2 linked regions of the Homo sapiens genome follow. The protein of the gene in region 2 purifies or fractionates together with the protein of the main gene of each other region. This does not show direct contact. Each region holds a gene or a part of one and is shown on either strand. Other genes may lie near its edges.

Region 1 (3,500 bases), on a different chromosome or scaffold from region 2:
TTACCCAACTATGAGCCATACCCAGCCTCCATTCCTTCACCCACACTGCCCTTGGCACACTAGACATCAAAGTTTCCACACTTTATCACACCCTTTTAAATTCTGAGAGACAGTGTCTCACTCTGCTATCTAGGCTAGACTGTATTTGGTGTTCTACCTTCAATGTAGCCCTCACCCCCCTTTTAAAAATACTAAACTTATAGGAAAATAAAATATTTTAAGGGCTGTGGTGTGAACACAGCTCACTGGAGCCTCAAACTCCTGGGCCCACTGGCTCAGGCAATCCCTCTTGCCTCAGCCTCCCAAGTAGCTGGGACTGCAAAGCACATGCCACCACACCTGGCTAATTAAAAAGAAAAATTTTTGGCCGGGCGCAGTGGCTCATGCCTGTAATCCCAGCACTTTGGGAGGCCAATGCGGGTGGATCACCTGAGGTCGGGAGTTTGAGACCAGCCTGGCCAAGATGGTGAAACTCTATCTCTACTAATAATAGAAAAATTAGCTAGGCATGGTGGTACACGCCTGTAATCCCAGCTGCTTGGGAGGCTGAGGCAGGAGAATCACTTGAACCTAGGAGGCAGAGGTTGCAGTGAGCCAAGATCCTGCCACTGCACTCCAGCCTGGGCAACAAGAGTGAAACTCCATCTCCCAAAAAAAAAAATTTTTTTTTCGTAGAGGCCGGGCATGTTGGCTCATCCCTATAAATCCCAGCACTTTGGGAGGCCAAGGCACGTGGATCACCTGAGGTCAAGAGTTTGAGAACAGACTGGCCAACTTGGTGAAACCCCATCTCTACTAAAAATACAAAAAGTAGCTGGGCGTGGTGGCAGACACCTATGGTCCGAGCTACTTGGGAGGCTGAGGCGCCAGAATCACTTGAACCTGGGACGGGGAGGCTGCAATGAGCTGAGATCATGTTACTGCACTCCAGCCTTGGTGACAGAGTTGGACTCTATATCAAAAAAAAAAAAAAAAAAATTGTAGAGACCGGAGTCTCACACTCCTGACCTCAAGCGATCCTCCTGCCTCAGTCTCTGCAACTGAGACTTTTATTTAGTTCCAGTTCTAAGGATCTGCCTTTACAAAATAAGCAAAGAAGTAAATAAAGTTTTATGCATACAGATCTAGTTTAGAGCAAAACATTAGAAATAGCCTAAGTGCTCACCCGTAGAAGCTCAAATAAGTATCAGTACATCACATACACTGGAATATATCCAAATGACAATAAAGCATTAAAAGTCTCATTAACTAATTAATCTTATGGAAAATTGATCAAAATCAATTAAGTGATAAATGCAATGTTTAACACCATATTTACAATTACAATCCAAATTGTGTAAAGAAAAAAAATGAGATCTGGATGAAAATGTATAAAATAAAAATGAATTTTCTCTAATATAAGGTAATTTTACTTTTACATTATTCCTTATTTTCCCAACTGTATAAAATATGAAAATAGTTCATCCTAAAAAAAAAAATCAAAACCATTTTGAAACAATAAAAGAATGACTGGCCAGGCGCAGTGGCTCACGCCTGTAATCCCAGCACTTTGGAAGGCCAAGGCAGGAGGATCGCCTAAGGTCGAGACCAGCCTGGCCAGCATGGTGAAACCCCGTCTCTACTAAAAATACAAAAATTAGCTAGGCGTGGTGGCGGGTGCCTGTAATCTCAGCTACTCGGGAAGCTGAGGCAGGAAAACTGATTGAACCTGGAAGGCAGAGGTTGCAGTGAGCCTGGATTGCACCATTGCACTCCAGTTGAGCATCAGAGTGAGACTCGGTCTCAAAAAAAAAAAAAAAAAAAAAGAGGCCAGGCACATTGGCTCATGTCTGTAATCCCAGCACTTTGGGAGACCGAGGTGGGCGGATCACCTGAGACCAGGAGTTCAAAACCAGCCTGAACTCCTGGTCTTGGTGAAACCCCATCTCTACTAAACCCCAACATGGTGAAACCCCATCTCTACTAAAAATACAAAAATTAGCTGGGCATGGTCGTGCATGCCTGTAGTCCCAACTACTCTACTCGGGAGGCTGAGGCAGGAGAATTGCTTGAACCCGGGAGGCGGAGGTTGCAGTGAGCCGAGATCACGCTATTGCACTCCAGCCTGGGCAACGGAGTAAGACTCCGTCTCCAAAAAAACAAACAAACAAACAAACAAAAAAAAACAAAAAAAACAAGAGGGGGCGCGGTGGCTCACACCTGTAATCCCAGCACTTTGGGAGGCTGAGGCGGGCGGCTCACGAGGTCAGGAGATAGAGACCATCCTGGCTAACACGGTGAAACCCCGTCTCTACTAAAAATACAAAAAATTAGCTGGGCATGGTGGCGGGCGCCTGTAGTCCCAGCTACTTGGGAGGCTGAGGCAGGAAAATGGTGTAAGTAAACCTGAGAGGCGGAGCTTGCAGTGAGCCTAGATCGCGCCACTGCACTCCAGCCTGGGCGACAGAGTGAGACTCCGTCTCAAAAAAAAAAAAAAAAAAAAAAAAAAAACAGAAACAAAAACAAGATTAAATCTTACCTTTTTTGGTCTTCAATTCCCCGTTCTAATGCCACAAGTGTTGGGATTACAGGTGTGAACCACTGCACCACTGCACCCACCCTAATACCCTTTTTATAAAGCTGCCAACTTCTATTCAAAACCTGCTATGGAACAAATACTCATGGCAAAAAAGCCTCAGTATCACACAGAAGTTGCATCACTGGGATGCTTCAGACAGGTTCAGACATTTTGAATAAAAACATCATTGGCTCTTAAGCCAGAGTACTGAAAATACCTCTAACCCAGAGATGTAAGATTTTGAAACCATATATTTTGGCACCCCTCCACCACAAGTCACTTTCCCAAAAGACAAGATGGACAAGAACCCAGCTTCCCCATTGCTAACCTGCAGTGTGCTGAGAGAATAAAGGTGAGGCTCGGAAGCGCCTGAATCCACAGTGAAATATGAGCTCTTCCTTGGCTTTCACAGGTTCAGTGTTGCCAGGGTCACGCCTCACCACCATATTCAATACTGACATCTGGGGACCAAGTAAGAAAAACAAAAATCTTCATAGTCTAGGAATACAATTGCCTAAACTGAAAGAAGGCAAACCAAACTAGCAGATTCAGACTCATTCTAAGAACTGACAATGCTAATTAATGGTGGAGTGTAGATGCTGAAACACGGGTTCATCCTTTACCTCCACCAATGACTGGCATTTAAGCCAAACACAGGCTGATCAGAGCTTTCATGCACCCTTCAATGCTAACCTACCTTCCTGCACCTAACAGAAAAGAGCTCAACATCTGCCACACAAAAATCAGTGGCCTTCAAGGCATTCACTCACCACAATCTCAAAACCACACTCATTCAAGCCCCTTCTTCTTGAGCCCTTACCAAAACCGATCAAAGAACTATCACATACCCCACAACATACACAACTACTGGCCACCAAGAGAAAAGAGATCTGCACTTTGGCATAAACTTTTTTTTTTTTTGACATAAGAGTTTCGCTCTTGT
Region 2 (3,500 bases):
TTAATGTCCAAATCTAGAAATAAAACAGAAAATGTTTCTTTAGATATTTGTCATATATATCACACACACAATTTGTGAAGTTACAACACATGTGGTGCTTTTATGCTGCCTTTTTTTTTTTGGCTTAAAACTTGCATATATTCTAACTTCTTTAAGATTATACAGACCAAAATTTGGCTAAAAATAAGTGTTTCTAAATAACAAGCCAAAAGAGAAAATGTCCTTTAAACATAAGTGTACAAATGTACTCTATAATATTCAAAAACCTTAAATTATTAGGATTATTGCCTGAAAATTATCTGCTACTATATAATAAAAATGGGGCCCATATCTTGGACAAATTAGATAAAGTCTCTATAGACTACTTTATTTGAATACTATCTGTATTTTATATCCCAATGACTCAATATTAATTAGTGTGTCTGACAATGCAGACCAATGTTAATCTGTCAATATCCTATTTTAAAAATTAGTACACTGCTCCTACAGTGACACCATTTAATACACTGCTCTAACAGTGACTGCTCTTACAGTTACACTGAGAAAAATTAATGTTCTCCAACTGATGTAATACTTCCAGACTTAAATTGGCAGTCTAGAACTTGCTCTGAACCTACAAAAGGCTATGGAGTGGCCAGGGTTTGAGTATTCTTCTGTCTACAAAGCAAGCTCCAAAGGTCCTAGTACATGGTTAGCCTTCCCCCTTGTGGGAAGTGACAAGGGGTGGTTTCCCTACAGACTCAATCACCCTAGAACCAGCCTCCCAAACACTAACCAGCAGTTCCTCCCAGCCAGTCTACCAAGATACCGTTATCCTCTTGGTTTAGACACTAAGTTGATATTATAATTGCAGGCCAGTGGCTGCTGCCCTGAGAAAGTTGAAGGTAAGAAGGAATGAATTACCCAGGATTTGGGTAATGTACAAAAGAAAAGTGTGTGAGAGGGTATGAAGGAGGAGGAGTTGGGAAGGAAATGGAAAATTGAGTGAGAAAGTGTGAAAGAGCGTGGGAGACCAGGACAGAGGAATATCATTAGAGACAAGTTGTAATTTAGAAGTTCTGAACCACTAAAATTTCACTTTAAAATTTTTGTCCACCAGGTTACAGATGTTGGAATGCATACTGCAAGGCAAGCAGTATACTGATTCCTTACCATAGATTAATGAAATAAGGAGCTAGCTCATACTGTGATTCACAAATAGAAGAAAGGGAGGAATGCCCAAGAGTGACTGAAAGGAAGAGTCACAGAAAAAGATGTTAAATACGAGGGCTCCACTTTCTCTATTTCAGACTTTTTAACTCTAAGATTCTTTTTGGAACAAGAATAGAATGAAGAACAGGATCAGAATAAGGGATGAGGTATAGGAAAACCCACATTCCAAGAAATCATGCTAACAACTGACTTGTAACTTTTGGTGAGTTACACTGTTCTTTAATAAAAGGGAAGAAAGACTCTTGATGAGTAAAGCAAATGGCCAATGTGGGGTTGGATCTGGATTCATTTGTTCATATGATCTTCAAATCTTGCCTATACAGAGTAAAAATATCACCTAACAAATAAAAAATAACTAGATTAAACATCAAGAATATATGATGTATTAGTATTTGCAAGCTTATACTCATACCTTCAGCTGTTAGAAACCAGCAACTGGATACTCCTTCAGTTAGCTTTGATCCTGATGGGAGGTCTAATCTGAGTTTGAACTGAAGAGTCTGGCCAGCACACGCAGTCACGGGGGAAAGCCTAATGCTTGGAGCAGATTTAGGTAGTTTGGGTAATGTCTTCTGTTTTTCTACTAGGAACGGGCCATCTACCACAGCATTTTCAGATCTGAAGATGGGGAGCTAGGAAATAAGAAAATCTGTTATTAAAACACAAGAACTTTATATTAATTATAGAATGAGAGCATATTTTTAGACTTTAGTAGAATAATGAAGTTCTATGTCAATGAAACTAATCGCCATTCTAGTTTGAATTAGAATGTGTTAGATGCCCTCAAGATTATTTTCGTAGACACAGAGAAAGTTTATCTTAGCGACAACAACAAAACCCAACACTTATGAATGAGGCAGAATTAAAGTAACTGTCCAATGTATATAGACGGCAGGAAATTAAAGCAAAAGTTTATAAATTTAAACATGCTAGATATACATTTTCTTATAATTTTCATTGTCAACTATAAGAAGATGTTATTCATCTTATATCAGAGATCTACGTGAAGAGAAATGACATTTATGTTGCAATAGTAATCTATGTTTCTTTTAAAAATATACCGTGCAAATTACCAGTTTTTCAGAAAAAAACTGTTGCATTTTTTTCAGGTAAATGTCATACATCAAGAGTTAGTTTATAATAGACATTTCCCCTTGAAAATTCTATAAGAAACCACGTCCATATCTTTAAAAACTGACTATAACTCATTTAAGTTTCTTCCACAATCTTATTTTCGATGTCTTGAGAAAGTGGCTTCTAAAGCTTTTGTTAGATTATTTGGTAATGGATTCATCACAGGCAAACAAAGGTTACATGTTAATCTAAAGATCACTGAAAAAAAAAAAAAAACAAAAACAATAAGCTAAATAACCCAACCCACAGAGCAGGTGTATGTAGTGTATGTCAGTATGTCTGTACACTTAAAAACAGATCTGAGTCCTCTCCTTTTTTTTTTCTTGAAGGTTCATTAGATTATCTCCAATTTCCAGTATTTTTCTCAAACTCTCAGCACAGATGGAACTTTTATTTTAAGAATAAAAGGATATCCTTAAAGCAGTCCTGCTGGTCTCTTTGTCAAAGAATACAACAGAAGCATCCACTTAATACTCTCCTGGAGATGGTCTAACCAAAAATGCCTCTGTCAGTGCTGTGAGGATCTTAGTATCATTCTTAAAACCACATTCTTTAACTTATATTTTAAAATTACTTACCACAGATACCATTTTAGTTTCTAAATCCATCACTTTAATTTGATGATTATTGGTGTCTGCTACATATAATAATTCTCCATTCTCTCCAATACACAAGCCTCCTGGTTCATTAAAAGTTGACTCTGTAAAACTGGAACTGGTAACATTATTTGTGTCTCCAGTTCCTGCTAATGTTGTACAGTTTTTTGTTTTTGGATCCACAACTTTAATCTAAAAAAGAAAGAACAAAAACTTATATAACTGAAGATCAATCTCATGTTTGTTGTATGGAAGAGTATGGTATCAAGCAAGCTAATTTCTGATTGCCATTAATATTCTCAATAAGTCTCACAAAAGGAATAGTTATTTCCATATTTTCTTGAAAAGCCAAACATTCAAATTGCAGTCTAAGGGGAGATATTCTATTCTAAGAACTAAAGACTATGTAAAATCCTTAGCTCCATCTTGTCTTCTGGAAGCAATCTTTGATGAAGTTATTTCTGGAATTAAAAAAAATTTTTTTTTATTGAATTGTTTTTCTTCACAATGGGACACACTTTCACAACTGAACTGACTTTGTCTTCCTGAGCATCTAGC

What was found. The genes of interacting proteins can lie anywhere in the genome.
Region 1: the proteins of NHLRC2 (region 2) and TSR1 purify together in Homo sapiens (affinity purification with mass spectrometry, with the first as the bait; one large-scale study listed by BioGRID). This does not show direct contact.

The regions. Positions count from the first base shown.
Region 1 is NC_000017.11:2,326,458-2,329,957, forward strand, and holds part of TSR1 (pre-rRNA-processing protein TSR1 homolog), read right to left. Parts: intron 3,019-3,500; coding exon 2,886-3,018; intron 2,754-2,885; exon of another isoform or gene 2,668-2,753; intron 1-2,667. UniProt on the Homo sapiens protein: Required during maturation of the 40S ribosomal subunit in the nucleolus.
Region 2 is NC_000010.11:113,903,161-113,906,660, reverse strand, and holds part of NHLRC2 (NHL repeat-containing protein 2), read right to left. Parts: intron 3,135-3,500; coding exon 2,925-3,134; intron 1,845-2,924; coding exon 1,625-1,844; intron 1-1,624. UniProt on the Homo sapiens protein: Required for normal embryonic development.